Regions from separate parts of the Homo sapiens genome. Here all the other regions are linked to region 1. The links come from fine-mapping of genetic effects on gene expression. A gene starts in region 1. Each other region holds a variant in brackets. All regions are shown on one strand. Distances are between the middles of the regions. Region 1 holds the start of FSHR (follicle stimulating hormone receptor). Region 2 overlaps STON1-GTF2A1L (STON1-GTF2A1L readthrough). Region 3 overlaps FSHR (follicle stimulating hormone receptor). Region 4 holds the start of LOC105374594 (a long non-coding RNA gene).

What was found.
Region 2: its variant is fine-mapped to the expression of FSHR in gastroesophageal junction (GTEx, PIP above 0.99). The same link has a PIP of 0.9 or more in coronary artery, esophagus muscle, ileum, sigmoid colon, stomach and transverse colon.
Region 3: its variant is fine-mapped to the expression of FSHR in testis (GTEx, PIP above 0.99).
Region 4: its variant is fine-mapped to the expression of FSHR in esophagus muscle (GTEx, PIP above 0.99). The same link has a PIP of 0.9 or more in gastroesophageal junction, sigmoid colon, stomach and transverse colon.

Annotation. Positions count from the first base shown.
Region 1 is chr2:49,150,874-49,158,983 of GRCh38, reverse strand. FSHR (follicle stimulating hormone receptor) reads left to right here and starts at 4,469. Exons shown (of 10, transcript NM_000145.4): 1 at 4,469-4,718. The coding sequence starts at 4,567.
Region 2 is chr2:48,592,156-48,600,265 of GRCh38, reverse strand. The region is part of intron 3 of STON1-GTF2A1L (STON1-GTF2A1L readthrough); the gene reads right to left. STON1 (stonin 1) reads right to left here. Exons shown (of 4, transcript NM_006873.4): 4 at 1,753-5,038. The coding sequence ends at 4,964. Among named protein-coding and RNA genes, the nearest start is that of GTF2A1L, 22 kb to the left of the region's middle. The variant C/T (reference allele first, on the strand shown) is at 5,024.
Region 3 is chr2:48,963,633-48,971,742 of GRCh38, reverse strand. It overlaps FSHR (follicle stimulating hormone receptor), which reads left to right. Exons shown (of 10, transcript NM_000145.4): 9 at 2,860-3,045; 10 at 7,777-8,110. Among named protein-coding and RNA genes, the nearest start is that of MIR548BA, 92 kb to the left of the region's middle. The variant C/T (reference allele first, on the strand shown) is at 4,373.
Region 4 is chr2:48,773,141-48,781,250 of GRCh38, reverse strand. It overlaps STON1-GTF2A1L (STON1-GTF2A1L readthrough), which reads right to left. Exons shown (of 11, transcript NM_001198593.2): 11 at 4,732-4,971. The coding sequence ends at 4,936. LOC105374594 (a long non-coding RNA gene) reads right to left here and starts at 3,886. Exons shown (of 4, transcript XR_001739460.2): 1 at 3,669-3,886. It also overlaps the pseudogene ELOBP3. The variant G/A (reference allele first, on the strand shown) is at 4,932.

The sequences.
Region 1 (8,110 bases):
TCTCAATTATCTATGTGCCAAAGAAGAAATTGTAATGGGAAATTGAGAAATATTTAAAAATAAATTGTAATGAAAGATCTACCTATCAATACTTGTAGAAGAGGGCCAAGGCAGAAATCACAGAAAAATTTACAGCTTTAGTATATTATTAGAAAGGAAGAAAGGCTGAAAACTAATAATCTGACATATAAATAAAACGTTTTAGAAAGGAACAACAAAAAAGGAAAAAATAAGCGCAAAAATCATGGAAACAAAACATAAAGATAGAATTGGATCAGCAAAGGGTAAAGGCAAAAGTTCGTTCTTTGAAAGAACAAGAAAAATAAAGAGAATTTTGGAAAGGTTGATTAATGAAAAGAAACTAGACAGAAATAAACAAGACTAGAAATTGTTTAGAATAGATTTAAAAAGAGAATACTAAAAATCTTTGTGACAGTAAATTTTAAAACTTAACTAAAATAAAAAATTCCTAGAAAAAATATAATTTAATAAATTTAAGAAGAAATAGAAAGCCTGAATCATCTAATAACAATTAAAGAAGTTGAATCAATATGTTTAAATTTTCATACATACACTGACACACACAAACATGCACACAGACACACATATATACACACAAATATGAACCGAGGCTCAAATGGTTTTTTAGGCAAATACAGGCATACTTTAAAGGAATAGATTACTTTAATCTGAAACAGTTTTTTTTTCCCTAAGAATAAAATGAGGGGGATTATACCCCAATTCAGACTATAAGGCAAACGTAACAATGCCACCAAACTATACAAGGACAACATGAGAAAGAAAACTTAGGAATTAATTATGCACTAAAAATTACTCATAATTAAGTTACAAATAACTTACGAACATAGATGCAAAATTTCTAAATAAAGTATTAGGAAATGTGTAGTTTAATAGCATATAATCATTATTGTAGCCCAGGGGTGGTGGCTCACACCCATAATCCCAGAACTTTGGGAGGCCAAGGTGGGCAGATCACCTGAGGTCAGGAGTTCGAGACCAGCCTGGCCAACATGGTAAAACCTGTCTCTACTAAAAATACAAACATTAGCTGGGCATGGTGGTGGGTGCCTGTAATCCCAGCTACTCAGGACACTGAGGCAGGAGAATCACTTGAACCCATGAGGCAGAGGTTGCAGTGAGCCGAGGTCACATCAGTGTACTCCACTCTGGGTGACAAGAATGAAACTCCATGTCAAAAACAAAAAAAAAATTATTATTGTAAAGAAAGAGTAGAAAGAGAGGAAGAAGGAGAGAGAGAAGAAAAGGAAGTTGGAGTCAGGGAAGAAAAGGAGGAAGGGAGGAAGGAATTGAAAAGAAAGAAACTCTCTACACATACACACACACATACACAGAATTATTTAGATATGGATAATTGTTTGCATAGAAAATGTAATAAGTGGCTGGGCATGGTGGCTCACGCCTGTAATCCCAGCACTTTGGGAGGCCGAGGCAGGTGGATCATGAGGTCAGGAGATCGAGACCATCCTGGCTAACACGGTGAAGCCCCGCCTCTACTAAAAAATACAAAAAATTAGCCAGGCGTGGTGGCGGGCACCTGTAGTTCCAGCTACTCAGGAGGCTGAGGCAGGAGAATGGCATGAACCTAGGAGGCAGAGCTTGCAGTGAGCCAATATCGAGCCACTGCACTCCAGCCTGGGTGACAGAGCAAGAGTCTGTCTCAAAAAAAAAAAAAAAAAAAAAGAAAATGTAATAAGGTAATTTAGATATAAGATAAATATTCCAAAATTAACTGCATTTTTACAGTATGACAACAAACATAAAATGTGACTTTAAATATTGATTTCATTTATAACAGCATAAAACAGGATGTCATCAGGAAACACATTTAAGATATTAGGACATATATGGAAGAAAGTATAAAGCTTTATTTAAAGACATCAAAGAAGGGCTTAAATAACATGGTGCTATACCATATTCATGGATAAGAAGACTTGTTATCTTAAAGGTGATAATTTCTGCCCAAATTAATCTATATAATCAATATAATTCCAAACAAAATTATACCAGGGTGTTTTCAAGGAGTGTAATAATCTGATTCTAAAATTTATTCATAGGTCCAAAATAGGCAAGATACTCCTATAGGAAATAAGATAGAAGTGTTTTCTTACTGTATATCAAGGCTTACTTTAAAGTTGTAGTAATTAAGACAGTATAACATTGGTGTAATGTAGAAAAAAGAATAGTGGAATATAAAAAAGCTTAGACACAAACCCATGCAAAATAGTTACTTGAGATATGAGAAAGGTAGTTTTACAAGTGAGAAAAGAAAAGAGGGACCATTCAATAAATGGTTTTGGGACAAATGTTTATCCATGTGGATAAAACCATTATGCCATCAGATAAAAAACAAATTGAGTCCTTTACTCACACCCATAAATCTCAATGCCAAATAGATCAAAGGCCAAAATGTACAGAGCAAAACTAAAAAATTTTAGAGAAGATATAAAATAATATTTTCACAACCTCAGGATTTTAAAAATTACAGGAGAATGAAAACATAAATTATGGTATATTTATGCAATGGAATATCATACAGTAGTATAATATTAATAAACTACAGGTATACCTAACAGGTACAAAATTAATAAACTGCAGGTACACATAACAACATGGTTATTTCTTTAAAATGTCTAGTTAGTGTAAAATAGTAAGCAGCAAAATACTACTAAAAGACTGATAGACTTTGTAAAAATGTAAAAACACGCAAGAAATTAAATAATATATTCCTTGGAGATACATTTTGTGACAAGATTAATTTTACAAAACAAATGAAATAATAACCACAAAATTCAGATTAATGGTCACCTTGGGCATAGGAACACAAGAAGGTAATAAAGGAAAATCAACTAAGTAGATGCAACAGGACTGGCTATGTCCTTTATTCTCCAGCCCGCAATTGTTTGTTGCATTATTATGCTTAATAAATTACATTTATGTTACCTATAAGTTGTGAATACGACATAGCATTTAAAATAAAAATCTCAATTTTAAAAAGATTTCTGCTTATTATACTAAGACTAATTACAGAGCTCTCCAAAAGCTAGAAGGGGACTTATGGGGCAGAGGAATTGGGTAAAAGGTTTAATTGGTAGTGAGTTTCTTGTCACTGGAGTTATTCAAGTACAGATGAGAAAATCCGTTTAAATTAATATGAATACTTAAACTTAAGCATTAGTTGGTTGATTGAATTAACTTCCTTCTACATCTGAAAGACTATAATTCCTTGGATCAGTTGTTGAACAAACTAATTTAACCATTCATGTTAGCCAATTTGTTAAAAATATGAAGTCCATATAGATACTGCCTTTGTCTGCCAATTCCAGAATTAGAATAAACCAGTTGCTCCCAGAAAAAATCTAGGGATCAACTTTGCCCCCCAAATCACTTGCTTCTGTTTTTTTCTTAATAATTTAATCATTCTTTACATGGTTTTCCTTGGTAAGGCAGGGGAGAGGGAAGGAGGGGTGGGATAAGTAGGTATTTTTAACATTTTCATGAAGCTCAATTTTATGCAACTAATTATCTAAAGATAGTATTGAAACTAATTTTAGCAGGTAATAAGTTGTGGGCAGGATCTTAGAGAATATTCTGCCTTTTAATCTTCATAGATTCTACAATTGAAAGTAGAAAGCCACTTTTCTAAAAGTGTTGCCAAACGTTCCTCAGATCCCTCACCATCGAGGAGGGGAATGCCAACAAAAGTGCTGGGCTGTCACCTCAGGGAACTTTTAAAAGTAAGTTAAAAGCGTAGATTAAATAAATTCATTTATGCCAATTGCCAAAAGGCAAGGGCAATCTTCAGAGCCTGGAAATGCGAGAAGGCAGGCAGGATATGCACGAGGGGGTGGATGTGCTGGCATTTACTAAATCCCCACTGGAAACATAGCACATTTCTTAGATCACTCAGTTCAGTCAATTATCGCTACAGATAACCCTATCAGAAGTACCTCCCACCTACGGAAATCTGCCTAAGGTTTGCTAACCCACCTGCCTGTTTCTGAATAGTGCCATTTTTGGCATAATTACAGCAAAAAAAGAGGATCATTGAATGCAACCCAGAAGGGCTGGTTTTCTCTCAGGTGGGCTGGTTGAAGAAATTGATGCTGAAGACTGAAGGTCCCAGCCCTTCACTTATTAGTACCCCTCTTAGTGATGTGTCATATTGTGGGTTGTGTCTTTTTTGGAGAAAGTCAATCATGTCACTCTGTTGAGAAGAGAATGGTGAACAGCAAGGAGACTTTTGCAATGAAATAATGCAAACTATTCCAGACATGCCTAATGGTTCTATTTGCTGTGTGCCTTAGGTCAGGGTGTAAGAAACCCAATCTTGAAGGAAAACAGAGTAGCTTATCTTGCCTGGAAGTAACAAAAAAAAAAAAAAAAAGCATCCCTTGGTGGGTCACATGACCCTACCAGTTCTCAAGTCAGATCTCTTCTCATAAGGGCACTGTGTGGAGCTTCTGAGATCTGTGGAGGTTTTTCTCTGCAAATGCAGGAAGAAATCAGGTGGATGGATGCATAATTATGGCCCTGCTCCTGGTCTCTTTGCTGGCATTCCTGAGCTTGGGCTCAGGATGTCATCATCGGATCTGTCACTGCTCTAACAGGGTTTTTCTCTGCCAAGAGAGCAAGGTGACAGAGATTCCTTCTGACCTCCCGAGGAATGCCATTGAACTGTGAGTATCAGAGGGAGGGGGAACAACTGCATGGCTGGCATTTGTGCATTGCGTACTATTATTATTTTTACATTAGGCTGATATCTGTTAGACTGAAATATTTCTGCCCCTTGACCGAAGTCCTGAATAAAACAACTAACTCCCCAGCCCAACCCTCCTGCCTGTGGCTTTCCAAGAATCTTAGATGAGAGTTTGTATCAGCATTTGTCAGAGAACGGCAGTGTCAGAGAACCGGAATCCAAAGGCAAAGGGAAAAGTTTTGTCTTTTCAATGCATTTGCTCTTGGGTTTCATACTCTCTTTAGTGGAACCAGAAAAGGAAAATGAAGGCAAAGTAGAAACTTAGGAGACCCAGAATTGGAGGCAGAAAGGCAGCTTTGATCTAAGCAGAATACACAAGGTATGTCTCCCGAGGACACTGAATCTAAAAGGCCATAGTCTTTGTCGTTTTGAAGGCAGCAGCAAATAATTCCTGAACTGAGATTCTGCTTTTGGGTGTAAAAAGGAGGTGGTAGAGAAGAGAAAAGGTGTGAAGAAAGAAAGAAAGATAGGAAAGACACAGAGAGAGGGAGAAATACAGGATAATCTTTTACACAACTGGAAAAAAATGTGATTAATAAGTTAGAAATTTACTTAACTATTTTAACAGGAAGTAGACTCCTAGAGTTGGCCAAGAATTTAGACACCATCCTACTCTCTCTTTCTTTTGCAAATTAGGAATCTGGTGTCTGAAGAGTAAAGAGGATTTTCCAAACTCTCGTGATGAGTTGAGATGGAGCCAAAAGTAGAAATCGGGCCTTTTGACTCACAGTCTACTGTTTTGTTTTGTTTTGTTTTGTTTTCCCAACCCACTGTGACTGACTCCATTAGAGCAACAGTGAGGGAAGCCTGAAGTAATTGTTCAGTTACTGCTTCCCCTGAGAACTGGCAAGTTGGGACTCAGGGATTTTAGATACTCTCTGTGTTTTTATTGCAAGGATTTTAAACAGAAGCCTGTTTCAACCTTTGTCACTTAAAGCTGTGGATGATTTGCATTTAATTGAAGAAGGTGGTCATCTCTTTAGTTCACCAATTGCCATATTGACACTGAAACATGTTGGTGTTGCATTTCAGATTTTCACTCAGGGACAATGAGTTGCAGCCTTGCAGACCTGATTGATTCTGTTTGCCACATTTCCCCTTAACATCTCAAGTCTTCAGTCCTTATCCAGAGGCAGCTGCAGAGGCAGGGAAAATAACTGGCCAGCTCTGTGTTTTGGCTACACTGTCTCAGATTAGACAGCTACTCCTGATTATGCTGAAGAATGTGCCCATGCACAAAGACAGTCTGATTTATTAGGTAAATATAAGCACAGGAGAAGGCCAATGTACCTGAGCTCCTATAAGTCATTTGGTCCTAAGTGACTTTCAGTGATTACTTAACCCCTTCTGAGCCTCAAGTTCCTCATTTCTGAAGCCATTTTAGTACAACCTGCTTGGTTGAATTGTTGTGAACACTAAAAGATATAGATGACCCCTACACCCTAATTTCCACCTCTCCTGGACCTACTCCACTTTTTCCAATGTTTCCATGTGGGTCAAGCAGTGTCATCCAGTTGATAAAACAAACAGACCCAAACAAGTTTTAATTTTAGGGTGATTTCACACTAGCCTGTCTGCTTTCTGAAATCTCCTTATCAGAAGAGAGATTTTCTTTTTTCATTCTGCAGAGAAAACATAGGCCAAAAAAGAGAAAAGATGGAGGGAAAAAGGGAAAAAGAGAAAGAAAAGAAAGAGGAAAGAAAAGAAAATCCACCCCCACACCCTAAAGCTTCAGGGAGTATATTTGTATGAATTACTATGAGAGGATATGAATTTTTGAAAAAAAGTAATGCTAAGGTATAAATGACTAAAACACATCTCTGGCCAAGAGCATTTTGCAACTAAGGAAAGAGAGCATGAGATGTTGAGATAGTATGGAAAGAGACTGTGTGAGAGAGTGTGATGAACAGAGCACCAGAAACAAATTTCACATTCTTGACAAAGGCTAGCTCTAGGTCAATTCCTTACTTCAGTGTACGTATTAGAGGACAAAGTTGCATAAAACTAAGAAAAGGAAAGAAAGTTCCTGCCAGGTGTTAGGATTTTCCTCCACCTAAGGAATGAGTATAGTTAAGAGCTTTAGAAGCTCTCTCAAATACCCAGTCTTAAGAAGATTCTGTCTTCTGCACACTCATTGGTAGGGCTTGACTTGGACCATCTTAGAGTTTGGCTTTGCAATCTTCTTGGAAAGGTGTACTGAGGTGAGAAGAGAAATGTTGCTTTGTCTATTAGATTTTAAAAAAGGAAAATTATTTCAGGTCAGTGTGTTAATCACTGAAGAGTAGATAAAATGTCAAGTGAATTACAACTCACATACTGTTAGAATGAGAGAGCAATTACCTTTATTTTTGCTTCCTTAAAAAGACTGAATCAAGGTTATCTAAGTAAATGGCAGAACAGGGATGAAATGGACTGTTCAACTAAGTATCTCTAATTCACCTTACAATCTTCCAAGTTTGCGTATTAACTTTAATGATTACATGAGGTGTAGGTGGATGGATTATTGGACTTCATTGACTGCAATTGCTTAATCCATCAACATGTCAAAGCTTCATTGTTACTCAGGCTCACCGGGTGGAAAACAATTCCTACATTTTACTATGTACATTTTTATCCTATCATTCCATTCACCTTGCAGCAGTTTCATTTCATTTGATACATCTGCCAGCTATCACGAAAGATTGCTAATTTCCTATGATCTGCACATGCTGATATTAATGCTAAAAGAACAGAAGCACCATCAACAGGCAAGTAGATTTCATTTACTAAGGGGCTCCTACTATTTGCTTTATGCAGTATGTTTTGTACATACTACTTCATTAAAACTTCACCAAAAACTGCAAGTTTGGAATTATTGCTCTGTTTTTCAAATAAGACAAACCAAAGCACAAAAAAGTTGAGTAGCTCTGGCAATTATCCCTGCAGCTCCTGGATGGCAGAGCTGGGATCCAAATTTGAATCTTTTATATCTCCTCTGCATGCCATGTGAAATGAACATCATCTGACTCTATACCTTTCTTATTCTGAAAAAAAAAAAAAAAAAAGAGTAATCCTTTACATTTTAAACCAGAAGTCAGCTTTATGGGCTATACCACTTCTTGCAACTACTCACTTCTATCACAGTAGCAGAAAAGCAGCCATAAACAACATGTAAATTAATGAACATGGACATGTTCCAAGAAAACTTTATTTATGAACACAGAAATTTGAATTTCATATAATTGTCATGTCACACAAAAAAGCATTATTTTGATTTTTTTCAACCATGTGAAAAGGTGAGAAAGATTTTTAGCTTACTGGCCATAGAAAAAC
Region 2 (8,110 bases), 560 kb after region 1:
CGAGTGCAGATACATGAAGGGTAAGCAGCAAAACCCAGAGTCTAATGATGCTGTGCCTTTCTTCCCCAGGAAGTCTCACGGAAATGAACTGAAATATTTTAAAACTTGGGGCAATTAATCTAATCAGTTTTCCTTTTCCTTACAGAGGAAAATGATTACATTCCTTACAGATGATTTTAAAGGCACAATATTATCTGTAGCTTGTATCTATGGATTTTTGTAATTCAACTATTTGCTTCTTGACTAGCAACTCTGTCTTGCTTTAAAAATTAGTCAAATTCATATTTCATTGCCATTTCTAAGCAGGATAACAAAAAGTGCTTGTATCATATGACCTAGGGAAATATGTGGATAATTAGATTGAGCCCGTGAAATTCCCATCAAGAAAGGTAAATATTGGCGATTACATATGATTCAACAGAATACACATAACCCTGTGTTTTAGGGCCCTGGCTAAGGGTATAAGTTCCTTGGAATACAGTAGTTGCAGAGGATGGGGAGGGTCTAGGAGAGACAACATCAAAATCTACCCTGTGTCTACACAAAAGCGGTGGGACAGTCTAGCCAGAGTTGAGACAAAACAGGGAAGAATTGATTGATGGGATTTTGAGGACTGTTGTTACAAATATGGTCAGTTTTTGCCAGTCAATCCTTTTGCTGTTCCTGAAGAACTAGGGCCAAGCCTTGTGAGTGCTAGCAGTGGCTAAAATGGTGCTTCATGCTCTGTCTTCTATGAAGTACTGATGCCTTTTTGAAATATTAACTTTAGTAGCTCAATAAAAATTTAATTTCAACACAAGGCAGATTTCTTATAAAAAGGAGGGTGGAGAGGTTGTTAGGTTCGTCCTTTATAAGCACTGATTCCCTTCATATCTCCTACAGCCTCCCTCCACTCCCGCACAACTCTCCTCCACTCTCCCCCAACTCCCTACCACCCACACGTATATCTTACCTGATATATATTCTGTGCAATTTTGTAAAACTGGTTTTCTAAACTTTAAAAATGTGGCTTTTAGGTGCACATTAATTCTACAGGACTACTCTACAAGTTGCCAAAGGTTGAAAATTCCATGGAATTCTGTGGACAAAGTTTTTCCTGTTTTCAAGGAAAAATTGTGAAAGGCTTTGAATAGTGGTAATCTTATGCATGTATTCATTTCATATATTTCTTTTTTTTTTTTTTTTTTTTTTTTTGAGATGGAGTCTCACTCTGTTGCCCAGACTGGAGTGCAGTGGCGCAATCTCTGCTCACTGCAAGCTCCGCCTCCCGGGTTCACACCATTCTCCTGCCTCAGCCTCCCCAGTAGCTGGGACTATAGGCGCCCGCCACCACGCCCAACTAATTTTTTTTTTTTTTTTTTTTTTTTTTTTGTATTTTTAGTAGAGACGGGGTTTCACCGTGTTAGCCAGTATGGTCTTGATCTTCTGACCTCATGATCCACCCGCTTCAGCCTCCCAAAGAGCTGGGATTACAGGCGTGAGCCACCACACCCAGCCTCATATCTTTGTGAGTCATGATTATACCCTATTTTTAAAATCATCCTTTATAACATTATCAACTATACTTTGATGATGTCATTTTTCCAGGATATGCAAAGAGGTCATGGTCACTGACTCCTTAAGAGTGGAGCCTGACATATGCCTGACAGAGGGTCAATTGTTTAAGGTTATTGAAATTGATTTCATACCTTAAGAAAAAAAAATAGCCCCAGGTCTTGCAGAAGAAGATATAAATTCACAGCACAGTAAGAATAGTTTGAAATACATTTTTAATTTTTGAAAAATCAATATGTAATCTACAAAATATTTTGTTACATGATTAAGGCTCAACCTGTCTTATATTTGCATTGACAGAATACAAAACTGTATTTTAAGTAAGACATTATAATAGTCATTGTTAAGGAAGTCCTTCTAACTGACTTTATAAGAAAAGGGGCTGTATCACAAGCATAGCTCTGGAATGAAGGGAACTAACATCCTAGAACTGTCTAATATATACATCAGGTTGTAAAATTCCAGCCTTTATTTATGTGCTGGAAAGTATCTTTTTTACATATCTTTTTTTAGTGGATAAACTCTTGTGATTCCCACAGAAAAAGGAAATGTTCTTAAATTCAGATCTGCACAAATCATCTACCCATGAATTCATTTACACAGTTAATATGATCCTGTAACTGGAAAGGTGACCAGACTAGTCACAAACTGGTCAACTCCTTGGAAGTCTGCTCATTTGACTCCAAAATGGTCAAACTCACAATGGAGTGATCTAAGCAAAATGAATGCTAGAAAGGAATATTTCCTCCCTCATTCCTTTCCTTCCCCGCTTCCCTCCCCTAAAAGCAAGGGTTTTTTGAAGATCACTATTCCGGCAAGGGCAGTTCTACTTAATTTGAACCCTACCTGATTTTTCACCTAGAGTTCTGTAGTCACATCTGACCTTCTGCCAGTTCTGAGGTCAGAAGAATTGAATAAGCCTCCCCTCCCTACACAGAATGTTAATTTAACATTAAGTAATGAATATTTAAGGATCCTAATAGATGTGCGAATTAACAATTATGCTGTAACACCCTGCTGTTAATGCTATCAGCTTCTGCATTGCCACAGACAATCCATTTGGGCTTTAGTCCAGCTTTTGCTATTATATTGTCAAGACTGAATCTTGAGATGTCCTGAAGGCCCGGTGGCTTGTGAGTGAATAACCTGGGCAGGGAGGTACCCACAGATACTAGTCAACCTGTGAAGCATGAGGGGCAACTAAGTGAACCCTTTGCTGAATATATTTTGAGGTGTAAATAGTCATTAAGTTCATCCTAATCAGACTGTGAGTTCTTTGTGGGCAGGATGCCATAAAACACACTTAGAAAGGAATGGCAGTAATTAACCCACCTAACTTCACTGGGACTGTGGGCAGCATCAGTTTCGGCCGGCCTCCACATTCGTTCTGAGCAGACTGAAGTCACTGTAGAGTGCGCCCACACCAGATGATAAAGAAAGATGGTAGAATTTTTTTAATGACATACACACACAGATTTGCCCTACTCTACATCAACAGTGAGCCTCAAGCATATGATATTATAAGCAAGGCATCAAATGAAGTTAAAAAGAGCAATAGCGGCCGGGCATGGTGGCTCACGCATTTAATCCCAGAACTTTGGGAGGCCGAGGCTGGTGGATCACCTGAGGTCAGGAGTTCGAGACTAGCCCGGCCAACATGGGGAAACTCCGTCTGTAGTAAAAATACAAAAGAATTTTAGCCAGGCATGGTGGCTTGTGCCTGTAATCCCAGCTAGTTGGAGGCTGAGGCAGGAGAATCCCTTGAACCCAGGAGGCGGAGGTTGCAGTGAGCCAAGATGACACACTGCACTCCAGGCTGGGCAACAGAGTGAGACTCTGTCTCAAAAAAAGTAAAAAATAAAAACAGCAATAACAATTCCTTTCAACCAACCATCACCTATTGCATTCTTTGCCTTTACAGTAAAATAATGAAAAGCAATAAAATCTGCTGATTGATACAGACCATCATAAATGTTTGTCTTAATCTGTTTTTGAACAGATTTCAATGAATGTAATATAATATTAAATATTAAAAAAAACACATGAAATAAACTCTGTAGGCCAACACATAAATGTTGTTTGGAAGAACACTAAATCAGTTTTGACTCAAAACAAATCTAGCAAATAGAGAAAAATATCTCCTAATTATGTTTAAGACTCAACATAAATTGAAGGTATATTAATACCACATGGGGGAGTTTGTTTTTCAGACTAAAAACAATACCTGGAATATAGATTTCATAAATTTTAAAATTCTCACTTTTCACTGTAAATGCTGAAAGGAAATTATAAACAGAATTATAACTGCTAATGCTATTGACTTTTCATTAGAAACCAAACTATTATAGTCATTTACCTGACTCTGAAGAATAAAAATGTTGCCACTTAGAAATCTGGGTAAAATACCAAGTATCTTTCACTTTGCTCACCTTTTAATGAAAAATACTCTAAAATAAGCAGAATTAGCATAAAACAGCATGATAGCAGAACTAGTATAAAATAATCATAATGTGATTTAGACTTCTACTCAAGAGAGGCTTGTGTTCATTACAAATAATACTTTATCAAAATATGTCCTTAGAGTCTGTACTTTTGGAAAATAGTATTTATAAATTTTAAAAATTCATATTTAATATACACAAATATGTTAACTAGTGTCTAATACTCAGATTCCATTTTGAAAGGAATCCTGCCAAGTGAAAGGAAATATGTCTTAGTGATTTATACTAAAATATGTAGGACAACAGAAATAGCTTCTTTGCAGCACGCGCCAGAAAACAAACACATTTTGAAAATGACAATACAGTAGGAGAGAGACAGGTACCAAATATAGCCAATTATTATTTACCAACGGTAAGAGGACAGGTAAATAAGTAATTCAAAAGCACAGATACTTCCAGATCTACATTTTAGCCTGTGGTTTCAACATCATTCTACACCTAGCCACATTTCAGAGGCAAGAAAGAGGGAAAATTAACTATTTTGGTTTATGTCTCCTTTGATTCCCTTACCCTCTAGTACAGACACTAAGCAGCAAGAAGAGATGGGAAGAAATGAAGACGGCACCTCAGTAATCCAGAGAGCAAAACAGTCAGCCACTGAGTAATCAAAAATCATACTGGCTGCGGGGTCACACAACGAGTAACAGTGCCTTTGAGTTTCAATAGGAAGCAAAACATCACACGAATTATAGAAACATTTTAGATCGAACCCCTAGGACAAAAACACATGAAAAGCAAAAAATACAGATTGTTCGGTTTTAGGTCTAAACTTCTCTAAACACAGCCATCAGACCTGTCCTAAAACCGCTATTCAGAAGTCATTTCCACTCTACAGTAGCAGGACTTGGTGTGGTTTCGGTGAATTACATATTTGACAAGTGGGCTGTCATCATAAACTCTTGCTACTCCTACTGAGTTATGCAGTCACCAATTTTATCTGGGTCTTCTCCATCGATTTTAATCCACTT[C/T]TTTTCTATTTCAACCTGTTATGCAAAAGCAAAACACAGGCAGCATTAACAAATGCAACACAGCACTCACACCTCTTCAGTCCTATTTTATACATGTGGCACAGACTGCACAAACCTCACCCTTTGGACACAGACACAGCCCTCTACCCTCCTACAGTAGCTTCCAAGTGAGGCGCTCTGCTCTCCTTTTGAACAACAGAGCCCCTCAAATCCTCCCCGCCAGGGTCAAGTCTTCAAGAGCACCAAAACTGTCTTCTAAGTCAAACGTAGTTTTTATAAAATGTATACAGAATATGTATACTGAAAAAAAATTTACAGATCTGACTAGACATATGATCAATTATCCCTCTACCTGAATATATGGCTGTATCATGTATCTAGCCATTGGCCCCCTTAAGATTTATAATGCACCCAAAATTATCTAATTGAAACAAGCCATCTTACAAACTATTAGGTTGCTGCAAAACTAATGGCAAAAACCGTGATTACTTTTGCAGCAACCTAATAGTAAACCATCTGCTCTTCATCATTTTTGTCTCAGCTCAAATGTCACATCCTCCTGGAGGTCCTCCAGGACTACCCCTGATAAAGCCCTCCAGTCACTCTCTATCCCGTTACCCTATTTTATTACCTTCTTGGAATTTGTTATTAGTTGAAATCATATTTATTTATTTATTTATCTACTAACTATTTTTCGTTTACCCCCACTAGAAACTATGCTCCATGAGGACAGGGACTTTGTCTCTCTGTTCACACTGCTGTGTCCCTGCATGTGGAGCAGTATCTGGCAACAGATAATTACTAAATGGAAGAAAACATTTTGAAACTGCCACCAGGTGCACATCAACTAGTAAATGCTACTAAAGCAAGAGATACTTTGTAAAGTAATTTTTAATTGTCCACTAAAATTGCATGAACCTGGCATGCCCTGTGAATAGGAAAATAAGTATAAACACAGTCTCCATGCCACTTGACCCACATTTCAGTCACACATAATATATATATACCTAGTGTTATAGGTCAGGTTCCCCAAGAAATAAACTCTGAGATGGAGATCTGTGTGCAGAAAGTTTACTGGAGAGTGCCGTTGAGTTCAACATTCATGGGGGAGTGAGGCAGGAAATGAAGCTAAATGGGCAGAGAGAGAAGCTGGGATGCAATGTAGTCAGAATGAAGGCTTCTGTCCATGCCCTGGAGAGCTGAAGCTGGGCTGACCTACAGCGTTAGCCCAAGTTGATGCAAAGGGGCCTATACACCCCTGCATAGATTCCAGGAAGGAGGCATGACCTCAGGAAAGGCAGCTATCTTCAGCGGCGGCAATTCCCACCTGCTGGGGAAATACATCCTTCAGGTCTGAAGGGGCTGCACAGGACAGCACTACCTATCATTACTTTTATCAGTAGAAAAAGATAACTGGACCCAAACATAGACTTCTAAACAGATAGTCCAAAATAAAGAAAAATCCTGACTCACATTACTATAGTATAGGAAACCCAGTTGATATTAGCGATGTCATGTATAATATCACTATTTTTAATAGAAATAAATTAGTAGAAAATCAGAATGGCATTAATCTTTGCTGCAAGTCAAGCAACACATAGATTTTAAAATGCTATTTGAGAGGCACATGTTCTCAGGACCTCCTGAGGGCTGTGTAACAGGCAAAATTTAAATTTTTAAAAATAAAATAAATGCTATTAGAAATTATAAAATGTTGCTCATGTGAAAGACAGAAGGGAAACATACATTCTAAACTGAACCACCTGTCTGTAATGCACTATTTAATTTTTGTGATTTTTGAAATATTTTCTAGTTAAAAATACTTTTAGGCCAGGTGTGGTGGCTCACACCTCTAATCCCAGCACTTTGGGAGGCCGAGGCAGACAGATCACAAGGTCAGGAGTTCGAGACCAGCCTGGCCAACATGGTGAAACCCCATCTCTACTATAAACACAAAAAATTAGCCAGGCGTGGTGGCAGGCACCTGTAATCCCAGCTACTCGGGAGGCTGAGGCAGGAGAATTACTTGAACCTAGGAAGCGGAGGTTGCAGTGAGCCGAGACCATGCCACTGCACTCCAACCTGGGCAACAGAGCAAGACTCTGTCTCAAAATAAAGAAAACCTTTTAAACAAAATCAGCAAGATGCATCACCATTTCAAGATACTGTGGGAAATATGTGGCAGGAGACATCCATATATCTACTAAACTTGAGGATAAGAAGGGAAAACAAGTTTAGAAACAGATGTAAGTGTATGTCCTCCTTTAGTTCATCTGCCTAAGAATGCAGAAGAGCTGATGGCAAACATTTAAAACTACCATAATACCAGGCTGGATACGGTGGCTCACGCTTGTAATCCCAGCACTTTGGGAGGCCGAGGCAGGAGGATCACTTGAGACCAGGAATTTGAGACCAGCCTGACCAACATAGTGAGATCCCATCTCTATTTAAAAATTTAAAATAAAACTTTAAGCTACCAATAGGCTAGGCATGGTGGCTTACGCCTGTAATCCCAGCACTTGGGGAGGCCGAGAGGGTCAGATTACCTAAGGTCGGGAGTTTGAGACCAGCCTGGCCAACATGGCAAAACCCCATCTCTACTAAAAATAGAATAATAATAATAATAATAATAATAATAATAATAATAGCTGGGTGTGGTGGTGGGTGGCTGTAATCCCAGTTACTTGAGAGGCTGAGGCAGGAGAATCGCTTGGACCCAGGAGGCGGAGGTTGCAGTGAGCCAAGATAATGCCACTGCACTCCAGCCTGGGTGACAGAGTGAGATGCCGTCTTAAAAAAAAAAAAACTGAAAACTACCATAATAGAGTAACTCAGCATTTCCTAAAGCATGCTCCACAGAACACTATTCCACAAGATAGGGATAAGTGTTTTACATACACATACCCACAAAGACAAGACACAATAGCCAATGAGTTGGGAAAAACTGGGTTAACTAAGTTTAACAAGTTTCCTTATTGCAGGACTTCTTGGGAGCCTTTATTTAACATTAATTTAGTATACGGCATTCCCCAACTTATTCTTTTGTTGGATAATTATATGGGACACATGTTCTGCAGCACATATTTT
Region 3 (8,110 bases), 190 kb after region 1:
TGACAAAACTAGAACTATACAAATCCAAAATCATTGTTGGAGATTTCATTATAATTTTCTCAGTAGTGATAGAACAAAGAAGCAAAAAAATCAGTAAGTATATAGGAGATTTGATCTAATTGACAGCTAACAAAGAGGGGACTATGTATAAAATACACACACATACAAATGCACACACACCTAACAAAGGTAATTGTTCTGAAAATGTAAATCTTCCTGAACATCAAACAGGGGATCAGTAGTCCAGAGATTGGCAATAGTAACCACTACTAACCCTAGGACTTGAGGAACAAATGAGGAAGTCATCTTACTGATGTCCAGGAACTGGGGCAACTGGTAGAAGCTGGATCCTCCAAGGATCTGTTCAACGAGAGCTGAAGTCACAGAGAAGACTCAGTTGCTGCCTGAGACAGAGAAGGGATGAGATTTGCACTTTTACCTATTCTCCAGTATCCCACTAGTGCCATTTGCTAAACCCAATTGAAAGCTGATTGATAAGGTGGTACCTGGGAAATGGAACTGCAGGGATCATCCTTCCTGCAACACAGAGAAGAGCGTAGAGAAGGGCATAACATGGATGTGGGAGAAAAGAGGCAAATGATCAACACACTGTATACAGTGACTTGTCCTTCATCCTAAGAGCAATGGGGAGTCATTAAAGGGTCTTAAGCAGGAAGTCACAATCTAATAGGCATTTTTTATATCTGCAGTACTAAGATTGCAATAGATGGTCATGAGGGCAGTTATAAGACCTTTGCATTTGTCTAGGCAGAGATTGTGGTGACTTAGACCAAAGTCACAGGAGAGGAGGGAAGTAGGCTGATTTGAAACACATTTAAAAGTTAGGCTTGAGAGAACAAGACACTGATGTCCCATGAGGGAGTCAAGGATGGCACCCAGGTTTCCATTATGAAAAACAGGGGAAACTGGAAGAGTCATTTGCTGAGATGGAAAAAACAAGGAGGAACATATTTACAAGAAAGATGGTAACTTCAGTTTTGATGCAAGTCATCAAAATGGTGGAGTTCAAAGAACAACTGATTATGTGGACCTGGAGCTCAGGAGTAGGATCTGAATGGGGACACACATTTTGGAAGCCATCAGCACATGCCTGGTATCTGAAACTAAGGGAATGAATGAGATCACCTGAAAAGATTGGGTATAGTCAGAAGGGGTCTAGGTATAAAGATATACTAATATTTAAAGAACAGATAAAAGAGAAGTAAAACAAAAGCATCAGAAAGAAGTCAACGGAGATGTCAGAGGAAAATATGTCAAGGAGAATATGACGCCAAGAAAGAGAGTATCTCAAAAAGAAGGAGCATTCTACCTGTGAAATGTAATTACAAAATCAAGGAGATCAGAGCTAAGACATGGCCTTAGTGAGTACTATTTCCCGAGAGGCTGAAGAGAAACTCAACTGAATTGTGAGATGAGGAAATAAAAGCATGAACAACTAGTATAAATTTGCTTGGGAAATGGAAGTGACAAATAAGGCAGTAGTTAGGGATGGGTTTCACTGGACAATAGGAAGCCATTATAAATTTTTGAGCAAGATAATTATACAATGAAAGCAAGACTTTGAAAATGTAATTTTCACCAGATTGTGAGAACATATGGGGTAGCAAATATATATTCACACCCCCAAGTTTCATTACTCTGAGTGCCTACTGCTTTGATTTACAGGGAATGCCAACATTAAAAGACTCTTCTTACTCAAGTATATCCAAGGGTCCCCAAGGATGCTAAAATGAACTCATCCTGGTCATCACTTGCTACCATCCCCATCAGAAGTACCCACTCACGGCCAAGCTGTTGGCCCCACCAGGTCCAAGCTGGTGCCATTTAAATCTCCTTGTTCTCACCAGCCGGTCTTGGTTTTGAAGGTTGCAACTACCAGTGGTGCTGCCAGAAAAGCGCCCACATCACTGGTGCTGCTGCCAGAAAGGATGGAACTTGCAGCCCATCAGGGGCAGGGACCTGGTTAAACTGGTCATTTGTGCTGAGGTCTAATGGACAGGCAGAGACTTTCCTACCAAACAAGAACAACTTTCTCTCTCTCACACTCAGTGTTATGTTTACTAAGAATAGTTGCCAGACACTAAGTGTTGTCTGTTGGTCAGGAAGTTCTTTATGCACTTTAACTCATCTAATTTTAACAACAACCCTCTGAGGTACACATAGGATTTTTGTCTTCCCATTTTACAGCTGAGGAAACTGAAACATGGAGAAGTGACATACTTGACCAAGGTCATAAATCTAATAGGGAGAGGGGCAAGGTACATATGCAGGCAGGTCTGCTGTAGACGCCAAGTTCGTAACCACCACTCTGTACTGCCACTTGGACTTTGTGCTAACACTGCCCCTACCGCCTGCCAGACTCTTCTTCCTCTTGTAGTATATTTCCTTCTTGTCCCTTTTTCTGAAATTTGGCCACAGATTCTACTCCAGCTCATCAGAAATATTTTTATAGCTAGTTTTATGGTACAGACAAATGGTCTCAATCCCTTAGTCCCATGCAAATTAGCAGGTACAAATAGACTGTAGAAGGGAAGGTGGCTAATTCTACTCACCAGCAACACTTAGGCCCCAAATTAGCCAGGATGTAAGTATATCCAGGAATCAGAGTGGCCTGTTATCTAACTCCTCCTACCAGGAACAGAAGGACCAGGACTCCTACAGAACCAAATGTCCTATTAGCCAAATATCCATCTGGCCAAGGTGTGTTGGAGGAACCGGAGTCTCTCTCCTCATCCATGTAAGAATATCACTAGTGTGTCTGCTATTTTGCCTGCTAACCAAGAGCAGAAAGTTTTAGGTCCATAGTAATCCTGTTATATTTACCTTTTCTCTTTATAGAGATATTTCAAGAACAAGGATCCATTCCCTGCCTAGCTATGGCTTAGAAAATCTTAAGAAGCTGAGGGCCAGGTCGACTTACAACTTAAAAAAGCTGCCTACTCTGGAAAAGCTTGTCGCCCTCATGGAAGCCAGCCTCACCTATCCCAGCCATTGCTGTGCCTTTGCAAACTGGAGACGGCAAATGTGAGTCCATCCTTTAAGCCCTGCTCAGGCATTTCCCCAATGTAGAACTTTGTCCACAATTTCTACCTATCTGTGACATGAAGAGAATCTACTTGCAGAGAGTTCCCTGTCTCAAGCCCTTTGGCACATTCTGGGTCAAAAATTCAGTTCATGGAGAGTGAGGAATAGTTGAACTCTTTCATTTCTTTGAAAGTGGGCTCACAGGAGAGGGCTACCCATGTGGCAGAACATATACCAAGTACTAAATGAGAAAACATGAAAAATACTAAGCATAGTGCCTCAGAGTTGGTGCATAATATCTGTTCCCTCTTTCCTTTGTACCATTATAGATTTAATCCTTCAAGTCCCAAACTGTGCACCTGATAAATGCCCCATCCGTGTCATCTTTGGTGGGGAGATGCATAAATGCCATGCCAGAGACTGATGTACATATCTGCCGCACATCCCAATCACTCTAAGCCTCTCTAATCCACCTTGGGATCTTCCTACCTCACAGGGAGGATAAAGATTAAGACATCTCATTACTTTGGCTTTCAAAGAAAGCCGGGTTCAAGGAAGCCCAGACTTAAAGAGGGCCATCTAAACAGAGACAAGTCTTAGTAGCTAACTGGTTAAAAAAGTGAGGTAATCATAGACAGGATCTGGAAAGAGTAAAGAGAAAGTCGCCTTGGAGATTGTACACATGTTCCAGACATTTAAATGATCCATTGGAGGTAAGAACTTACTGAGTATCAGAGTTCTCAAAGCTCTCACGCTCCTCTGAGCTCACCTACATAAGCCACACCATGTAGTTGCACTCATCAAATGATGTCTTTTCATTACTCTTATATACTAGCCTAGAACTAATACAGCTTTCCTATGATATTATTTCTCTGTTTAACACAGTCTCCTCCATTATTCAACCTTTAACATACATTGACCAGTCCATGTGGACATATTCCTTGCTCCAAAGCAAAACAAAAAGAGCAACAAAACAGTACCCACCCTAAAATGTTTTTCAGAGTAGCTGGAAGTCCCTACTCAGACCCTTTTGGAGGATTTGTAGAAAAATAGCTGTTTTTCAGAATCTGCATGCATCATTGGGATATTATCCAGAATGGGCACTCTTCATAGATCAGCTCAAGAGCCAGGAAATTTCTTCCTGACAATCAGAATTCTTAAGGTCCTGGGCTGAAGCAGTGGCTTGCCTCTTTTATATTCCAGATAAGAATTATTCTATCCAGAGTGAGAAAGATACCAATTTTGCACCAAGTCCATGGGACTGAATACCCCAAAGGAGAAATAAAGAACATTAAGATTGGCCAGGCAAGGTGGCTGACACCCATAA[C/T]CCCAGCACTTTGGGAGGCCAAGGCGGAATAACTCCTTGAGCCCAGGAGTTTGAGACCAGCCTGGGTAACATGGTGGGACCTCGTCTCTACAAAAAAAATGAACAAAATTAGCCATGTGTGGTGGCGCATGCCTGTAGTCCCACCTACTCGGGAGGCTAAAGTGGGAGGATTACTTGAGCCCAGGAGGTCGAGGCTGCAGTGAGCTATAATTGTGCCACTGTACTTCAGCCTGGGCAGCAGAGTGAGACCCTGTCTTTAAAAAAAGAAGAAAATGTTAAGATCACTGTGAGAGCAGCTTGCAGTGTGCTATTTGGCCCAGTTCCAACACACCCCAAGAATTTGTTGTCTCATCGTGTTACTCAGACTCCTCTAGACATAGCCTCAAGGCTCTCCCAACCAGAATCTCCACATCTACCTTATATTGTCACAGGACATGAGGTCTTCTCTGATCCCTCCAGACCACTCGGCTCTCATCCCTCTAGGTTGCTGCTCTAACTTACCATCCAGGCCTGTTGGGGTATAGCAAGGGAGAGGAACATGGTTCTTACACTACATGCCAAAATGGAGTAACAAAAATTGTGATAGGTGGTTTTCATTTTTTATTTTTAGCAATGGGTATTTGATTTTCATATTTATCAAATTCACACACAAACAACACAAAATAATTGTTATTCAGAAGATAATTTCAGATTTATTCCTTCAATAGTGACATTTCATTGTATATCATAGTAGATGTGGTTTGGTAGCGGGATTCAAGTTTTAACTTGTATGATGAAATTCTTCTTTTGATCCTCATTTGGAAATAATGCCCAGAGTGTAAACATGAGGCCCCTGTGACTAAAACTTTGGCCAGTGGTCCTCCTGGACTCTTCCTGGGCTCTTCCCAAAAGTTCGTATCAACTACAGTCTTCATTTGTCATTGAACCTGATATTTCCTTGTCATAATTCTGTATTCATTTTGCATTACTTTGCTCTCATTTTATTCTTCAATTTTTAATGTTAAATACAATAAAAATTGTGTTTCTTCACAACTCAATGTTGTGAAGGCCATTTCTTCACAATTCAATATTAAATTGACATGCTGTTGCATATGCTTCTAAGTACCCACACAGGGCCTAGACCTCAAGAATTCCATAAGTAACCACCATCATTTGTCTTCATACTGCTGACATTTGCCAAGTATTCACTACCAAGCACTGTAATACTCTGTATCTTTATTTCATTTAATTCCCACAATGGTAATATCATTATTATTCCTTTCTCACAGAGACAGAAACTAAGGCTCAGAGATACTAAATAACTTGACCTACACTGACCAAACAGATCCAAATCTGGTCTGCCTGCCTCCAAAGCTTAGGCTCTGCGACACTGCTATGCCACCCCCAAGCATCTGTTCACTGACTGATCAGAGTCCAAGAGTGCCACTTTTTCAACTGACCCTAAACTGAATTCCCAACTCCTTATGATAATTAGGATTTTCCAAAGTACTGCGGAGGCAAGACTTGATGTCCTTTGGTTTCCACTTTTGTTTCTGTTCTTATCTCAGAGACATAAGTTATTTACTTTTCTCCTTACTTCATGTCAGTGGGTCACTTCAGTTTCAGAAAAAGAGAAGCACAATATTTAAAATATATGGACAGCAGTATCAACAATAAGAACCTTCACAGACAGCGACCATAAGCCATAGGAAGTGAAGGCTGTTTCTAGAGAGTTAAGTCAGAGCTCAGTCCAATGAACCAAACTGCAGTCAGCAAGTACCAGGTTACTTACTTTCTCTTCCTGGAATCAGGCTGCAACTAATTCAGTAACAGGGTTTAAGAGTCTAGAGTTAGACTAAGGACCACAGGATACCCCTCTTCTCCCCTCTATACCCATTATGGAGCTTGCCTCACCTTTCTTGGAAGACCATTGACTAAACCAGAACATTTTCTGGGCTCCGTTTCCATTCACTTTCAATTCTGTGTATGTTAATCATTTAGCCTTAAAAAAACAAACAAACAAAAAGAATCCCTTAGGCCAAGAGAAAATGACTTCCTGGCAATTCAATTCACTTCCCAGGGGTGAGAGAAGAGAGGAGAGCACTCTTCCTAACAGACCCTTCTCATCCAGGTTGATGGGGCAAGGTTCAGTCCCTGTATAATAGGTTGGAACACCTGGCAAGACTCATCCTTTAGCATCAAATGGAGTCTTTACCTCCTCCACTCCCCTAGCCACCTTTTTCCTTCTTAAGAAGGTTTGATACTTACTTCGCCACTTATATCTGAGGTTATGTCAAGGTTTAAAAAAAATACAGTCAACTTAATATTGCTGTGAACTTGCCCCTTGGGGAAGGAGGGAAAGGTATGCATGTGTATGTACAATTTTTTTTTTTTTTTTGCATCCAAAAAGGTCCTAACGTAAGGCTTATTCCCATTCCACAAGCCTTTGCTTCCAAACAGAAGTATTACCTTTCTTGTTTCTACATCCAGAGTATTGATATACTACTCTGGGGTAGAATATTTATGGGTATACTCGTGGATTGAATATTTATCACCTGGATTTCATTCAAATCCCTCTGTAAGTACCTCTATCCTGTTGACAAGGCCCCTTGTACATTTGGGTTTAAAGGCAAAACCAAGACAGTAAAGTGAGCCCAAGGAGAGCTAGGCTGCCCAGAGGATGAGTTCCATTCTTAGAATAAATTAGGTCCTTTTGCAGCTTGCATTGTTCTTTGGGGCACTCACTAGGAAACTGTTCAATATGAGAGAGCCAGGCTTACCTTGCAGACAAGCACATGCTGAGGCCTATTGTGGCCCCCAGAAAGTGAGATAATAAAGAACAGGAAAGACCCTGGTAACATTTCCGGCAAATTAGCTGGCCTCCTAATAGCCTGAGTACCAAAGAGCCAGGGAATAGGGGCTGGCTGGGAACTAACTACAGATTTTGATCCCCTAATTTATGTAGATAAGAGAAGCAAATAAGTTCTCATTTGAGTCAGCGAACAGTCTGGATCTTCCAGTGATTTGAGTGTAGACGAATAGGAATATGTCCTACTCAGGTGTATTAAGAGATAGCTGGATCAAGATGGGAGAAGGAAAAGGGTCGAGTTGATGCCAGCTCTGTAAATTATTTTCACTTAACAGCAAGGCTTAGTCTCAGGTGCCTTCCTCCCCACATTCAGGTTGTGGCAAGATGGTTTCCCCAGTGAGCCATCCAACTCTAGTAATATATATACAAGTTGTTATATTCATTTACAGTAAGCAGCATTAACCCTTGAGGTTAGCCTCAAGGGCAGGTATGATGTGAGAAGAAAAAAAAAAAATCTCAGGAAGAAACTCATCATTTCTACCCTGCACAAAGACAGTGATGTATTTGCTATACTGGATCTGAGATGTTGATTCTATTTCTTTTTGTATTTTTCTAGCTCTGAGCTTCATCCAATTTGCAACAAATCTATTTTAAGGCAAGAAGTTGATTATATGACTCAGGCTAGGGGTCAGAGATCCTCTCTGGCAGAAGACAATGAGTCCAGCTACAGCAGAGGATTTGACATGACGTACACTGAGTTTGACTATGACTTATGCAATGAAGTGGTTGACGTGACCTGCTCCCCTAAGCCAGATGCATTCAACCCATGTGAAGATATCATGGGGTACAACATCCTCAGAGTCCTGATATGGTTTATCAGCATCCTGGCCATCACTGGGAACATCATAGTGCTAGTGATCCTAACTACCAGCCAATATAAACTCACAGTC
Region 4 (8,110 bases), 380 kb after region 1:
AAGTTGTGGAGCACTCTGCAGAATCAAGTGGACCCTGCCCAAGCTGGGTTTGGACTAGCTCACATTTGGAATAAATGGAAAGGAAAACGAGACAGCCACTTGTGGACTTGTGAATTAGTTTGCACACACACACACACACACACACACACTGCTTACTAACATGAACAACCTGCTTCAAGGGTCTGATGGCTCATTCTTATTCTTTGTGATCCCTGCTGACTCTTCTCCAAAGCCCAAGAAACTTAAACTCTTAGGTCAGATGGATGGCTCTTTTATTTATTTACTTATTTTTTTAGATACCCAATTATCTTTTATTGAGGCCTCTCTGGGGTAGGTCAAATAAGCCTTCCTCACTGGAAGGCTTATTTATTGGTGCTGCTTCCTGAGTCCTGGGGATTCATCACATCAGGCAGCATGGGTGGGCTGAAGAAGGGCTCGATGTGCAGGGCCTCATAGGTGTCTCTGACCCGACCCAGAAATCCAGCCCCACTGCAGCTGTGGCCTGTGGCTGGGGAAGCCAAACTCATGCATCGTCTTGCCATCACCAGGAGCTGGTCACCCTTGTACAGCCGTTGCTAATCAGGCAGCCATTTCAGGATATCTTCAACAGCATGGTGCTGGACTCCTTGATGTCCGTGAAGACGGTGGTCATGGCCCCAGCCCAGCCCTACTCTTTTTTAATAACAGCTTTATTGAGACCTAATTCACACATCATACAATTCACCCTTTTAAAATGTATAATTTGGTGGGTTTTAGTATATTCACAGAGTTCTACGACCATTACCAATATGTAATTTTAGAACATTTTCATCACCCTAAAAAGAAACCCCACACACATAGGCAATCACTACCCATTTCTCCCTCCCCCAGCCCCTGACAACTACTAACCTACTTTTTGTCTCTATGGATTTGCCTATTCTGAACATTTCACAAAAATATAAAAATTCAACATATGTCCTTTTGCAACTAGCTTCTCTCGTTTAGCATAATGTTTTAAAGGTTCATCTATTCTGGAGCATGTATCAGTACTTCATTCCTTTTTATTGAAAAATGATGTTCCATTACATGAATATACTACATACTGTTCATCCATTTGTCATCTGATAGACATTTGGGTTGTTTCTACTTTTAGCTATTATAAATAATGCTCCCGTGAACATTCATGTACAAGTTGGTGCCCAACTCTTTAGGCATTTGAATCTTTCCTGGCTGTGCTCCTGGGCAGATAAATGGACCTGCAATAACACGTCTCTTTTAGGCTCCCCTAGCACTTTCTTCTCCATTCTGTACTTTTTCAAGAAAACAGGTTGATACTCTTTGCTGGTCTCCCTGCCTCTAAGCTCTCTCCAAGTCTAGTTCTCCACACATTTTGACATCAGGTATATTTTTATTGGAATTGATCTTTATGGCATCAATTCCATGCTCAAGAGCTTTGGCTAACACTCAAAGCCTAGAAGCCCCTGTCTCTTCACACCACCAATCCCTACCTTCATTCAATCTCTGTTTATCAGGAGTCACCTTGCAAATCTCTCTGCTATCTTATGCCCACCTCATCATTTATCCATCAAACATTACTGAATTCCTAGGCACGGTGCTGGGTACTGGAGGCATCAAGAGATGACTGAAAAAGATCCCTAGCCTTGAGTTCATTTTCTGGATCCGAATGGAGTAGGGAGGGTTGGTGGTATTGGAAAGGGTGAGTAGACATGTTAACGGAGAACAAATAAGCAATATGCAGAAATGGACTATTGGTCCAGTCCTGTTGGTGACTCATCCAACCCTCTTAGAATCTTTTTCTAACTCCAGATGAAGTTTTTGATAAAACTTTTTTGGCACAGGATTTTTATAACTGAAATTTTGTGAACTCTTTTTTTATTTTATTTGCACAAGAATACAAAAAAAAAAAAAGAGTAAGCAAGTAAGCAAGCTCCATTTGCCCCAGGCAATGCTGAGGCTAGAAAGTGGGAGGCATTCTCAGATTGCCCTGAACAGTCACATCTGTATGTCGTCAGGATTATCAAAATTGCCATGACAATGACCCAAAGGTTCTTCCTCAGATAAACCCTGCAAATACTCAGCAGATTTCAGCCAGACTCAACTGCATGCCCTTGAGGTTTGCAGTTTGCATGCTGTAAAAAAGCTGGAAGTGGGGGTGGGAGGGTGGAAGGAGGAGGTAGGATGTGAAGCAAAGGGCAAGAGGCCAGCTGAGGCTGCACAACCTTGGAATAATGTTTAGCTCAAATATGAAGAGAGCTCACTTGACATCCTGACTTTGTCTTTCTTTAGAAATGCTGAGGTAGATCTGTAAGCAGCTTCAGGTCAAACTGTTAAGTGTCTAAAAGTCTCAGAACTCTTCCCCATCTATTGACCAGAGGAGGATGGACCTGTGAAGAGGGAAGGTACGTGTAGTGTTTTATTCCCCAGAGAGTCTTCCTCAGACCCTATACCTAGGGCTTGGCCCCTTGACAAACTCTGATATCATTACATTTAGTCTTCAGAGTCCTGGCCTCCAGTTTCTTGACTCTCCTAGCCTCATTTTCAGACCTGATTCAAATGGAGACCTGTTCCTCTCATTGGATGAACACACTTAGGCCCAGAAAGTGAAGAGACTAGATACTCTTCAGCTGGGGATGCTGTAGATGAAATACTTTCATCAAAAGAAGGTTGGATAAGATGATCCCTAATTTTATTCCAATCAAAGGTTCTACAATTCTAAGATTTACCCAAAGGGACCCAGCTATTTTGAGGCAAAGTTTGGACCAGATCCCCGGTCTCTCCCCTCCCAATCCAGAAGCCACTGGAGAATGAGCCCCAGTACATCTTTGATGATGAGCTTATCACCAATTTGGATTTTTAGCTCAGATCTTAAACATCTGTTAAGTACCATGTAGACATTATCTTCACAGTTTTCATGAGAAGGAGGAGTGCATGGAGGGATGAAAGGGGAACAGAGCAAGAAGACATGCAGAACTCCCTTTTTACAACTGATATTTTCCTTAAAAGCTGAAAACACAATCACATTCTGCAAACCAAATTCCATTTTCAAATGAAAGTTCAACTGCCCTATAAATGGATATTACTGTGAATTTTTATAAAGGGGGCAATCCTATCATTGTAAAGCAAATGACCACTCCTTAATGTATTAATGTAGGATATTTAGATGTTTGTGTTTGGTTTTGATTAAAGCTCTGCCCATATTCTTGTAGCCATTTTACCATAAAACTAAGACAGTAAAACCAAGCTCCAAAAAGACCTCATGTCTTGTCCAAGAACGCCCTAAGACTAACTCCACACTATCATGACTCAAATCCCTTCCCTAGTCACCCAGTTTCACAGCCTAGATCTCTAAGGAACTAAGGGACTTGATCTGATCTCTTCAGTTTGCCCACATCAGATCCGAGAGCTCCAAGTTGGGCATACCTCGAGATTTTTTTTTAAGCAAGGCTTTCAAACAACCTTGTGCTGGAAACTGGCATGGAAGCAGAGGCTCATGTCCCTGACATACAAAGTCACTCTGAATTCCCCTAATTCCACAGCAATTCTCTGCCTACTGGGTCTTATTGCTTAACAGGAACATAAGCTCCTCTGACATTGACCTGGACAAGTGCTGCATATTTGGGAAGACGAGGAAAAGGCAAGCACAAAACATCTTTGAGCACGTTACCCACCTGCTTGATTTCTGCAGGCTGTTCCAGTGGCCTGACTCCCCACTCTGGATGGGGAACTCTTGAGACCACAGGCTCACAAAGCATGGGCTCCCTGGGAAGTGGTGAGCTGCAGAAATAAACTGCTCCTTTCCTTAAAACAATCAGCCGGTGACTCAGCCTGTAATCCCAGCACTTTGGGAGGCCGAGGCAGGCGGATCACGAGGTCAGGAGATTGAGACCATCCTGGCTAACACGGTGAAACCCCGTCTCTACTAAAAATACAAAAAAAATTATCCGGGCGTGGTGGCGGGCGCCTGTAGTCCCAACTACTCGGGAGGCTGAGGCAGGAGAATGGCGTGAACCCGGGAGGCGGAGCTTGCAGTGAGCCGAGATCGTGCCACTGCACTCCAGCCTGGGCGACAGAACGAGACTCCATCTCAAAAATAAAAAATAAAAAAATTTAAAAAAATTCAGCCCTGCAAACTCACTCTTAGTAAAACAAAAGACATTAAATTCTTACTGTTTTTCTTTTTTCTCTCAATTCCCTTTAATATGATAGCAGCTGAACTCACTGCTCATTGACCAGGCCATTCATTTACCAATTAGGTACAGGTAGTAGCTCGCTTTTGTCGTTTGTTTGTTTTTCTTTTTTTCTTTCCTTTTTTTTTTTTTTTTTTTTTTTTTGGAGATGGAGTCTCGCTTTGTCCCTCAGGCTGAAGTGCAGTGGCACGATCTTGGCTCACTGCAACCTCCGCCTTCCGAGTTCATGCCATTCTCCTGCCTCAGCCTCCCGAGTAGCTGGGATTATAGGCGCCCGCAGGTGGTAGCTCTTAAGTTGCTATCAGACCCTGATGGATTACCCCTTGTAAGAAATTAACCTCCTCCTACCTATTTGAATATTCTGTCTCCAAGCAGGCTACGTGTTCTCAGAAGACTGAGGCAGGGCCATATGTCTTTGCTTTACCCACAAAAAGTCTTGCTAATAATGTTCGGAGTAGAGATGGCACTCAATAAACTCATTAATCTACGGATGATAATTTTTAAGTGCCTACAACCATTATGAATCTCAGTCTACAAACTGGGATATGCCAAAACAATTCTTCTTCTTTATTTTTATTAAATCAAATTAATTTCCATTTTGAGTTCACATGCTCCTAGACTTGCAGGAATTTCAATGTCAGGCATTTACAGGAGTCTTCTTTCTCCTCAAGGTCTCCCTAGAATCCAGGGGGCTTCCATGGTGCTCAGAAAATTAGGATTAGGGCCTCTATCTTCTTGTCCATC[G/A]TAGTCATTGCTGCCCATGACGAACCCTGGTATCTCCCTGCTGATAAAAAAGATATATATACCATTGAGAACACAGGGACCTAAGGTTAGGCCTCCCTAGGTTCACCATTCGCCCCCTCTCAGAAATCTTGCTACGTTAACTAAACACATTAAAGAGGGGACATAGCGTCCTCCCACACCAAAAAAGAACACAGTACTATTACCAAATGAAGAGGATACTGGGTAGGCAAGACAACCAATGCCTATCACAAACAGAAGAGAGCATTCCAGGTAACAAGTTGCCAGGAGAAGAGCAAAACATCCTCAGCAATATTAATTATATTTGATGCTTAAAATGAACTTGGAGCATTTGCAGATACAAATACCAATAACTGACTGAAGAAAAGTGATATAAGCATTAAAATAAAGAAATGACCAACCCCACAGAAGACTGTGTGGGAAGAGAAAAGAATGAGCCATATCCTATATAACGAAGATAAATGGGAAAGAAAACTGTGGAACAGATGATAAAGAGGACTGTTTTCTTAGGAATCAAGATTTTCTCAGTTATCTTGAAAGGAGCAACTTGAGATTTATTCAAGAATTCCACTTCAAAACCATATGTCATTGCTGTATAGAAGTATGTCTAGGCTAACAATGTAGTAAAATCTACATACTTCTCATAATAATGTGTGGGTTTAATTATCGTTAACTATTTTTTATGGTCTTCAAAGTGCCTGGTTAAAGAATTCTTCCTATTATTAAATATGGATACCTTAACTAGATATAATTCCAGGAAAGATTCTTAGCACCAAAGTAGGCAAAAACCAGGTAAGCTGTGCTGATTAGAGATGATGTCTCAAGATTCATTTCTCTGTGTGTGTGTGTATACTGCACATGGATTAAGTCTGAAATGCAGAGTTTTAAAAACAAAATAGCTATGTCAGGGCACCATTTCCCAAACTGGTATCCCACAGATTAGCTCTTTAATATTCTGTTTGAGAGAAAAAAAAGGGAATGAAGTTTTATAAGTTAAGGGGAGTAGAAATTAGAGACAGAAGTCTCCTATTAGAAGACCACTGAGGTAGTTCACTGGCCAGGTATTAAAGACTGTGATAAGGAAAATTGATTGTGGGGGCAGGGGAAGGAACAGCTAAGTGAGGCATCCATCCAAGAAGTAAAATCATCAAAAGAGTGTCTATTAATGACCCAAAAACCCAGGAGTCATAACCCTTTGTTCTTAACCATCAGCTTATCTTTCCTCAAGAATAAGTAGTTCAGCAATGACATAGATAAATCTTAAAATAATTATGCTGAGTGAAAGAAGCCAGAAAAAAAGTGCATAATGTATGATTCAAATTATATAAAATTCTAGACTATGCAAACTAATCTCAAGTGAGAGAAAGCAAATCAGTGGTTGATTGGGGCTGGGAAGCTGAGATGGGTGGCCCAAGGAGGGCAGAATTACAAAAGGGCAGGAGGAATCTTTTGGGAGTGATGGATAGATTCATTTTCTTGATTATGGTGATGGTTTTACATGTAGAGATGTCAAAAATCATCAAACTGTACACTTTAAGTATGTACAGGTCATTGTATACCAATTATACCTTTATATCTGATATAGCTGTTGAAAGAAAGTAAAAAGGAATGGAAAGGAAAAGAAAGGAAAGGAAGAAGAAAGAAGGAAGAGGGAAAGAAGGAAGGAAGGAAGGAGGGAAGGAAGGAAGGAAGGAAGGAAGGAAGGAAGGAAGGAAGGAAGGAAGGAAGGAAGGAAGGGGAAGGGAGAAGAATATGTATTTCATTGAATTTTATCTATAGCAGAACTTCTCAACCACAGCACTACTGACATTTTAGACCAGATAATTCTTTGTTGTGGGAAGCGAGCTGTCCTATGCATCTTAGGATGTTTGGCAGCATCCCTGACTCTACCCACCACATGCCAGTAGCACTACCCACCAGCAGTGATGACCAAAGATGACTCCAGATACTGCCAAATATCCCCTTGTCAGTAGAAAAGGAGAGAGAAATGCCCCCAATTGAGAACAATGTGTCTGCAGGGATTTAGCAGGTTACCAGGAGGTTAAGGAAGAGAGTAACCTGAGTTCATGTAAGCCAGGATATCCATTCAAACCTAAAAATTAATGCTGAGGATGGAACAGAGCTGCAAGCTAGATGCAGAGGGAGGGTGCTGGAGGGCTGTGTGGCTTCTGACAGCATGCCATGCCATTCCTCTTCTACAGCAAAGCCAGTGCTGTAGAAAAGGAGGATGAAACTGCAGCAAAGCAAAACTCAAAGGAAAAGAGAGAAGTATTTAAATAATAACTTGAATTTGTTTATATTTCCCAGAGTACTTTTAGTCACATTATCTTACAGGGTTTTTACAAAGTCCATGTGAGGAGGAGGGGGTAGATATTGCTCTCCTCATTTTTCAGATGTGGAAACTAAAACCTACAAGGAGTATCCATCAGCCTCTGAGTTACTAGGTGTCTGAGCACACTGTTAGACTTCTGAGCCTCACCAGTAAAGGAGGGTCAGATAATCCCTCACCATGTTAGATCTTCCAGATAAAAGTTCTGAAGGGATGTGATTAAGAATTCTTAATCTCGGACGGCAATCCAACAAGAAACAAGCTGTAACACTGCAAGTAAGGAATTTAGGAAGTTTGGCTTAAAGAAGTATTTCTAGGGTGAGTTTTGTCAGAAAAAAGAATGTATGATTGAGGGATATTGAAGAACATCCTCTTCTAGTGCTTAAAAATAGGAGATACTTACTTCATTGGAATGATTTAAAGTCACTGATGGAGGGTAGGAGGGTAAACAGAAGACCATGCCCAGCCCCGTAATTCCTTGCACCAATAAAAGGAAGGGAGATCATTCAGAAGTGAGGGATGGAAGATCATTTGAATTGAGAATCTAGATTCAACTTTGGCATGAGTAAGAAGGGGCTACATTTCAAGTGTACCCAGCCACTCCTTCCTGCACCCTTTGTCCTTCAGAGATATTAACACTCTCCATTTAGAAAGACATAATCATTTACATGTAGTGAGAAGATCATGATGCCTCTCCTCAAACAAAGAAAACATTGCTCCCCAGAAAAAGAATCTCAGGCCTGTGAAGGAGGTAGAGAGATATTTGGCAAAGGGGCCTTCATGAACCACACCAATATTACAGTTGGAAGTTAGTTAGTTATCAGAATGTAGT